Linked DNA regions of Homo sapiens. The protein of the gene in region 1 interacts with the protein of each later gene in a pairwise test. Each region holds a gene or a part of one and is shown in the gene's direction. Other genes may lie near its edges.

Region 1 (4,670 bases):
TACAAGAGGTAGCAAGGCCTTATTTGCCTCAGGTCACATAGTCTACAAAACGCCACCAATCTGGAAGATGTTGCCGTTTTAAAAAAAGGCAATCCTTCTGTTCTAGAAGCTGCTGCCAAATTCCCAGGTTTGGCCTCCCTCTCCAGGTTTGCTTATGGCCCTTGGAATCCACCTGGTTCTGTGGGCCCCTACCATGTCTTTTTTTTTTTTTTTTTTTTTTTTTTTTGAGACGGAGTCTTGCTCTGTCACCCAGGCTGGAGTGCAGTGGCACGATTTGGCTCATTGCAACCTCTGCCTCCCAGGTTCAAGCAATTCTCCTGCCTCAGCCTCCTGAGTAGCTAGGATTACAAGTGTGTGCCAACACACCCAGCTAATTTTTGTATTTTTAGTAAAGACGGGGTTTTACCATGTTGGCCAGGCTGGTCTTGAACTCCTGACCTCGTGATCTGCCCACCTTGGCCTCCCAAAGTGCTGGGATTACAGGTGTGAGCCACCACGCCTGGCCTACCATGTCTTATTTTTAACTTCTAATATCTAGAGGGATTCCTCCCACAGTCCCCTCCTATAGACCCACAGATTTGGGTCCATAAAACTGGCCATTTCTGAAAACCAGGCCCATTCTCTTCAAAGAATGGAGATTGTCACCCAAAAGATGCTTCTCCAGGCTCTAGAGTCAGGCACACCTGGGCCCTCAACTCGACTCTACCTCCTATCCCAAGTGTGACTTGGGCAGATGACCTCTATTCACTTCATCAACAAAACAGGAGTGTTCTTCCCTGGGAGTTACAAGGAGCAAATGAGTTAAACGCAGAGCGCCTAGCTCTGGCCTTGCAGCCATTGTTGTTTCCAAAGTCTGAGGGCAGGGGTCCCACGGGAATAGGAGCACAGCTTCCAAGGGGCCCATTTGGAAGATGACGACACCTTCTTGGTTTCCTGCTAGGTAAAAACCCAGATTCCAAACATGAGAATCCTGCCTCCTGTTTAGGCCTGGGCTCTGGCTGGATCCCCCCAGATCTCAGGGTCTAACGCCCTCACTGCTTGTTCTCAAAACATCACTTCCCATTTTTGTGCCATTTGCAGCTTTCTTTTTTTTTTTGAGATGGAGTCTTGCTCTTGTTGCCCAGGCTAGAGTGCAATGGCACAATCTCGGCTCACTGCAACCTCTGCCTCCTGGGTTCAAGCGATTCTCCTGCCTCAGCCTCCTGAGTAGCTGGGATTACAGGCGCCCACCACCATGCCCGGCTGATTTTTGTATTTTTAGTAGAGACAGCGTTTCGCCATGTTGGTCAGGCTGGTCTCAAACTCCTAACCTCGTGATCTTCCCGCCTCGGCATCCCAAAGTGCTGGGATTACAGGTGTGAGCCACCGCGCCCAGCCATTTGCAGCTTTCAAAGCATTTTCTTTTTTCTTTTCTTTATTTTTCTTTTTATTTTTTGAGGCAGGGTCTCACTTTTGCCTGGGCTGAGTGCAGTGGCACAGTCATGGCTCACTGCAGCCTCAACCTCCTGGGCTGAAGTGATCCTCCCACCTCAGCTGTCTGAGTAGCTGGGACTGCAGGCACGTGCCACCACACCCAGCTGATTTTCTTTATTTTTTGTAGAGACGAGGTCTCGCTACGTTGCCAAGGCTGGTCTTGAACTCCTGGATGCCAGTGATCCTGCTGCCTCAGCCTCCCAAAGTGCTGGGATTACAGTTGTGAGCCACTGTGCCCTGCCAGCATCTTCATAGCCTTGACAGGGGCCAGGAGTTACTCCATTTCACAGATGGGTAAAGGGAGGCACTTAAGGAGTCTGTGGACTCATTATTGAGGGAAGAGGGGCAAGACTTAAGGCTGACAGCCCACTGTAAGGCAGTTGGTCACTGAGGCAGAAGATGAGATGATGCCCAGCTTGAGGGTGGGGATGGTGAGAAGGGATGGGCAGAGAGATTTAAGTAGAATCCGTGGCCTTGGTGTCTTTACATGAGGGAGAGGACCAGAGGAGTCAGGGATAACCCGAGGGAGCACAGCTGCGGGAAAGATGCTGAGTACACTTGGGACACAGCAAAGCTGGGGGCTGTGCAGTCCCTATGATGCTAGGAAGGGGAGCGTGTCCCTGCTGCCCAGGGCACTGTAGGCCCAGGCATGCCAACTCCAAAGCTCTAACTGAACCCAGGGTGGGTGTCGTGGGGAGAGTTCTCAAGGGACCCCTGGCATGAGTGAGAGGTGAGGCCCTATTGGGTGGCTGCAGGTGCTCTGAGAATGTCTATCCTGGATCTAGGCCAGAGGCCCACAAGTGCCGCACCCTGGGCCCTGCTGTGGCGGGCTGGGCTCAGGCTTCAGGTAGGCCTGCCATCTTGTTGCAGGGCAGCCTTCCTCCTGGCCAGGGGGGACCTCCTTGCTCCTTGCCAGGTGGCTGGTTTCTGGACCTGGCTCTGTGGATTCCTACTCTGCCCTGTTTGGTTGTTTGTGCTCTGAGTGCCTCAAGTCAAAGTAACTTGTGAAAAACCCTGCCCTCCATCTTGGAGGCCCTGGCCATATCTGTGGTCCCTCCGTGCGTTCTCTTCCTTCTTTTGTTCTTTGATTTTTTCAGCATGGGCGGGGGGCCTTGATTCGGCTCTTTCTGCCAGATGAATGACGTTTTTCGTCGCTAGCAGCTTCTGTTCCTGGGACATCTCTCCGGCGTCCCCGTTCCTCTCTCCCCAGGTGCCACCCTGCTCCGCCCAGGGGCCTCAGGCTCACAGCCTGGCCCCCGCTGGCCTGCCTGACACTCGGCTGATTGCTCTGCTCTCCCTCTGTTGGAGAGGCTCCCACAGGCGCTGGGGTGGAGGCCTGTGGAGGGTGAGCCAGGGCCGTCTGTGCCGAGCCAGTGGGGTGATCAAACTTCCTGGAGCCTGGGACTCCTAGGGAGGAGGGCCGGTGGGGCCATGAAGGGGCTTGGCCTCAGGCTGGATCGCTCACTCTCCCCCTCTCTCTGCCAGCGTCACAGAGCATGCTGTGCCAGGTGCTTCAGGGTCTGTGGAGACATGAAAGGGACAGTCCTGCTCTGGTCACACGCCACTGGGGCCAGGTGTTGGGCCTCGGGGCTGAGAGCTCTGGTCAGCTCTGAAGTTCTCCCTTCCCCCCCACCCTCTGCATCTCTGAGCTCCTCACTCCTCACTACTTCCCTGTTCCCCTGAGAATCCTCACCCTCTCATCCCCCTCTGAAATCCCCACTTCCCCTACCCAAGTCAGTCCCTGCCTCCCTCCATGGCTCCACCTCTCCCTGCCAGCACCCCACACGCCTCCCTCCTTCCTCTCAAGCCCCACACTCCTGAGTCTGGGTTGGAGGCCCCCTGACTCCGCAGCCTGCGTGACTTGCCCCTGGGCTTGCCCTTCAATCCCAGAGCCACCTGGCTTGACCCCTCCCCACCTGCACTTCTGCCTCCAGCCTTTGCTCCTGCTCTGTCCCCACAGAGCGCCTTGCCCGCTTCCCTCCCCTCTGAAGCTCAGGGCAAATCCAACCTCCGCCAGCAAACTCTGACTGCCCTGTGTGGGCTGTGCTGCTCTGTGGGGAGGGCTCTGCTTGAGGGAAGGGGCTAAAAGCTCTGGCTGAGGCAGGGTTCAGGTCGGGTCAGACCCCAGATCAGCAGATCGCTGACCCCCTCTGAGTTCATTTCCTCCTCAGTCGTGCTGACGGGCTCCTAGGGCCACTGAATGGATGTGGTAATAAACTGTGACAGCCACTGTCACCTAGCTGTTGTCATGCATGTCCCAGTGCTTGGCACATGGGCAAGGGTGTGTGTAGCTGCATGTGATTGGCTGTGATGCCCGTGTGCCCAGGCTTGGATGATCAGAGCACATTGGAACAGTCATCTGCACATGATGAGGTGGGGACAGGGTGGTGCGTAGCTCAATGGCAGGGGCCAGAGAGAGCTGCAGGTGGGACCCGGCAGGCCTGAGTTCAGATCCTGCCAGTCCACAGGCTGGTTGAGTGTTCTGGCGGGGACCAGACCTGCAGGGCCTCCTTTCCTGCACTGGCTCCTCTGAAGAGCAGAGTGACTGCAGTAAAGTCCCCAGAGCGGGGCCTGGCTTGCAGGTGTGTGGTAATAGTGGTTCCACTTCCTGTTGCAGCCGTCTTTGCCTGAGGGTCAAGGGCAGGCACATGGAGGGCGGCACCGCGTGAGCTGCCGGGGTGCCCTGGGCACTTGTGCAGTGAGGGGCTGCCACCTCTCCACTGAGCATGGTAGGGTCTGGCCCTCTTCTGGGCTCCACAGCCCCCACAGTGATACTTACACATGCCATTGTCGCCATTTGCCGCCCCGTCTTCTTCACTTGAGTCTGAGCCTGAGGATGGCAGGACCCTGGGCGTGGGCATCGCCATGATGGGCAGGGCCTAGCAGAGCACGGGTGCTCAGACATTTCTGGAAAGCAGGATCCAACCCTGCTTTTAGTGGCCCAGCCACTCTGGGCCAGGCCCAGGGCTCAATGCTCCTGAGCTCAAGGGGTGCCCAGCATGGCTGGAAGGCAAACAAGCAAGCAGAAAGCAGCGGCCTGTGACGAGGGCCAAGGGAGTAGGTGCAAGGGCTCCAGGCATGCAGCCTCAAGGCAGGTTGGGGGTGGCTCCTAGCAAGGCTTCTTGGAGGAGGTAGGGGTGAGTGGGCACAGCTTGAGCCCAGCGATGAGTAGGCGGTGCTAGGGACAACAACAGCCA
Region 2 (4,670 bases), on another chromosome or scaffold:
ATCTCTACTAAAAATACAAAAATTAGCTGGGTGAGGTGATGTGCACCTGTAGTCCCAGCTACTTGAGAGGGTGAGACATGAGAATTGCTTGAACCTGGGGGGCGGAGGTTGCAGTGAGCCAAGATCATGCCACTCCACTCCAGCCTGGACGACAGAGCAAGAACCCTGTCTTTAAAAAAAAAAAAAAAAAAAGTGGCTAGAACAAACATCTTTATCTTGTTCCTGATCTTAGGTGGAAAACTTTTTTGTTCCTGATATTAGGTGGAAAACTTTTAGTCTTTCACTGTTGAATATGATGTTACTTGTAGGTTTTCTGTAGATTCCCTTTATCGAGTTGAGGAAATTCTCTTATATTCATAGTGTGTTGAGTGTTTTTTATCATGAAAGGGTGTTGATTTTTTTTTTAAAGATAGGGTCTTGTTCTGTCACCCAGGCTGGAGGGCAGTGGCATGATCATGGCTCACTGCAACCTCGAATTCCTGGGCTCAGGGGATCCTCCTACTTCATCCTCCTGAGTAGGTGAGACTACAGGCATGAGCCACCATGCCCAGCTAATTTTTTAATTTTTCTGTAGAGGTAGGGTCCTGCTTTGCTGCCCAGGCTGGTCTTAAACTCCAGGGCTCAAGCAATCCTGCCTCAGCCTCCCAAAGTGCTGAGATTACAGGGGTGAGTCACTGCACTGCACCCAGCTGTGTGGGATTTTTCAAATGCTTTTTTCCTTTAGATGATCATGTGTGGTTTTTTTCCTTTCATTTTGTTAATGTGGTATATTGATTTTCGTATGTTGAACCATCCTTGAATTCCTCAGATAAAGCACGCATATTCATGGCGTATTATCTCTTTATTATTATTATTTTTGTAGAGATGAGATTTCACTCTGTTGCCCAAGCTGGTCTCAAACTCCTGGGCTAAAGTGATCCTCCTGCCTCAGCCTCCGAAAGCGCTGGGATTATAGGCATGAGCCACTTGGCCCTATCTTTTTTCTTTTTCTTTTTTTTTTTTTTTGAGACAGAGTCTCACTCTGTCGCCGGGCTGGAGTGAGTGGCGCGATCTCGGCTCACTGCAACCTCCATCTCCCGGGTTCAAGCAATTCTCCTGCCTCAGCCTCCTGAGTAGCTGGGACTACAGGTGCCCGCCACTATGCCCAGCTAATTTTTTGTGTTTTTAGTTGAGACGGTGTTTTGCCATGTTGGACAGGCTGGTCTTGCACTCCTGACCTCGTGATTCACCCACCTTGGCCTCCCGAAGTGCTGGGATTACAGGCGTGAGCCACCGCAGCGAGCCTTATCTTTTTAACAGTTAAAAGTTTAAGGCCTTATCATGTAATAACATTGCTGGATTTGATTTGCTGCTGTTTTGTTGAGAATATTTGCATCTGTATTGATAAGGGATATTGGTCTGTAGTTTTCTTTTCTTGGCATGTCTTTGTATAGCTTTGATGCCAGCATAATATTGGCCTCATAGAATGAGTTAGGAAGTATTCTTTATATTATGGGAAGAGGTAAAAAGGGATTGGTGTTAATTCTTCTTCAAATGTTTGATAGAATTCAACAGTGAAGTGATATATACAATCATATATAGAGAGAGAGAGAGAGAGAGAGAGATGGACTTTTCTTTTGTTGGAAGTTTATTGACTATTGATTCAATTTCCTTATTGAAATTGACTTTTCTTTTTGGAAGCTAAAACGTATAACTGTAGTGAAAGTTTCTGAACTTTTCTTTCATTGGAAGTTTTTTGACTACTGATTCTTTATTTGTTATAGGTCTATTCAGATTTTCTGTTTCTTCTTGAGTCAGTTTGGTCTCGCTCTGTCGCCCAGGCTGGAGTGCAGTGGTGCCATCTTGGCTCACTGCAACTTCTACCTCCCGAGTTCAAGTGATTCTCCCACCTCAGCCTCCCCAGTATCTCGGACTACAGGCGCACGCCAGCATACCTGGCTAATTTTTGTATTTTTAGTAGGAACAGCATTTCACCATGTTGGCCAGGCTGGTCTCGAACTCCTGACCTCAGGTGATCCACCCGCCTCGGCCTCACAAAGTGCTGGGACTACAGACATAAGCCACCGCGTCCAGCCTTGAGTCAGTTTAGATAGTTTGCATGCATGTTTCTAGGAATTTGTCCATTTTGTTTATGTTATCTAATCTGTTACCATACAATTGTTCATAGTATCCTTTTATAGCCCTAGTTATTTCTGTAAGATCAGTAGTAATAGCTCCACTTTCTCTCTTGGTTTTAGCAATTTGAGTCATCTCTTTTCTTCCTCTTTTTTTTTTTTTGAGATGGAGTCTCACTGTGTCACCCAGGCTGGAGTGCAGTGGCATGATCTTGGCTCACTGCAACCCCTGCCTCCCAGGTTCAAGCAATTCTGCCTTAGCCTCCTGAGTAGCTGGGATTACAGGTGTGAGCCACCACACCCAGCTAGTTTTGTTTTGTTTTTTTGTTTTTGAGACGGAGTCTGTTTCTGTCTCCCAGGCTGGAGTGCAGTGGTGCAATCTCACTCATTGCAACCTCCGACTCCCAGATTCCAGCAATTCTCCTGCCTCAGCCTCCTGAGTAGCTGGAACTATAGGCGTGCACCACCACGCCTGGCTGATTTTTATATTTTTAGTAGAGATGGGATTTCACCATGTTGGCCAGGCTGGTCTTGGACTCCCTACCTGAGGTGATCCGCCCACCTTGGCCTCCCAAAGTGCTGGGATTATAGGCATGAGCCACCATGCCCAGCCAGTTTTTGTATTTTTAGTAGAGATGGGGTTTCTCCCTGTCGGCCAGGCTGGTCTTGAAATCCTGACCTCAGGTTATCCACCAGCCTTGGCCTCCCAAAGTGCTAGGATTACAGGCATGAGCCACCACGCATGGCCTGTCTTTTCTTCTTGGTCATTTTCGCTAAAGGTTTGTCAATTTTGTTGATCTTTTTTGTTGCTGATCTCTATTGTTTTCCCATTCTGTTTCATTTATTTCCATTTTAACCTTTGTTTCCTTTTTTCTGCTGGTTTGGGTTTAATTTGCTCTTTTTTTCCCCTAATTTTTCAAGGTATACAGTTAAGTTATTGATTTGAGATCTCTTTTTTCTTTTCTTTTTTTTTTTTTTTTTTTTTTTTTGGTTGCTGTTGAGATGGAGTCTCCCTCTGTCACCCAGACTGGAGTGCAGTGGCATGATCTCAGCTCACTGCAGCCTCCGCCGCCCAGGCGATTCTCCTGCCTCAGCCTCCTGAGTAGACGTTTCCCGGCCAAGGTGTTTCTTTTTGAATGTAAGCATTTACAGCTACAGATTTCCCTCTAAACACTGCTTTCACTGCATTCCATAAGATTGTTTTTTGTTGTTGTTTTGTTGTTTGAGACACAGTCTCACTCTGTTGCCGTTTGGAGAGCAGCGATGCGATCATAGCTCTGTAGCCTTGAGCTCCTGGACTCAATCAGTCCTCCTGCCTCAGCCTCCCAAGTAGCTGGGACTACAGGTGTACACCACTGCACCTAACTAATTTCTTTTATAAGTTTTTGCAGAGGCCAGGCACAGTGGCTCACACCTGTAATCCCAGCACTTTGGGAGGCCAAGGTGGGTGGATCACCTAAGGTCAGGAGTTCGAGACCAGCCTGGCCGACAGGGAGAAACCCCATCTCTACTAAAAATACAAAAATTAGCTGGGCGTGGTGGCAGGTGCCTGTAATCCCAGCTACTCAGGAGGCTGAGGCAGGAGAATCGCTTGAACCTGGGAGGCAGAGGTTGCAGTGAGCCAGGATCACACCATTGCACTCCAGCCTGGGTAACAAAAGCAAAACTCCATCTCAAGAAAAGAAAAAAAAAAGTTTTTGCAGAGACAGGGTATCACTTTGTTGCCCAGGCTGGTCTCAAACTCCTGACTTGAAGGAGTCCTACTGCCTCGGCCTCCCAAAGTGCTGAGATTATGGGCAAGAGCCACCGCACCCTGCCACTTGGCTGTTTTGTTCTGTTGTATTTCCATTTTCATTGATCTCAAGACATCCTAATCTCCCTTTTGTTTTTTTGTTCGACTTACTCGTTATTCAAGAGTGTCTTTATTTCTGCATATTTGTAAATTTTCCAAAAAAGTTTTTCTTTCTTTCTTTTTTTTTTGAGAAAGGGTCTTGCTCTGTCGCCCAGGCTGGAGAATGGTGGTGCACAATCTTGCCTCACTGCAACCTCTGCCTCCCGGGTTCAAGTGATCCTCCCACCTCAGCCTTCCCAGTAGCTGGGATTACAGGCACACACCACCACACCTGGCTAATTTTTGTATTTTAGTCTTAACGTGCTGGTCAGACTGGTCTCGAATTCCTGACCTCAGGTGATCTGCCCGCCTTGGCCTCCCAAAGCACTGGGATTACAGGCGTGAAACACCATGCCCAGCCCCCAATTTTTTTTTTTTAATAGAGAGAAGGTCTCACTCAAGCCCAGGCTGGTCTTGAACTCCTGAGCTCAAGCTGTCATCCCTCCTCGGCCTCCCAAGGTGCTGAGATTACAGGTGTGAGTCACAGTACCTGGCCTTCTTTCAAGACTTTAAAAATGCCATCTTGGCTGGGCACGGTGGCTCACGCCTGTAATCCCAGCACTTTGGGAGGCCGAGGTGGGCAGATCACGAGGTCAGGAGATCAAGACCACCCTGGCTAACATGGTGAAACCCTGTCTCTACTAAAAATACAAAAAATTAACCAG

Evidence for each region. Proteins that work in one complex are often made in the same cells at the same time.
Region 2: the proteins of UBXN11 (region 1) and ZGPAT interact in binary tests that used the Homo sapiens proteins (3 or more experiments, as listed by UniProt).

The regions. Positions count from the first base shown.
Region 1 is NC_000001.11:26,289,281-26,293,950, reverse strand, and holds part of UBXN11 (UBX domain-containing protein 11), read left to right. Parts: intron 1-4,670. UniProt on the Homo sapiens protein: May be involved in the reorganization of actin cytoskeleton mediated by RND1, RND2 and RND3. Promotes RHOA activation mediated by GNA12 and GNA13.
Region 2 is NC_000020.11:63,714,255-63,718,924, forward strand, and holds part of ZGPAT (zinc finger CCCH-type with G patch domain-containing protein), read left to right. Parts: intron 1-4,670. UniProt on the Homo sapiens protein: Transcription repressor that specifically binds the 5'-GGAG[GA]A[GA]A-3' consensus sequence. Represses transcription by recruiting the chromatin multiprotein complex NuRD to target promoters.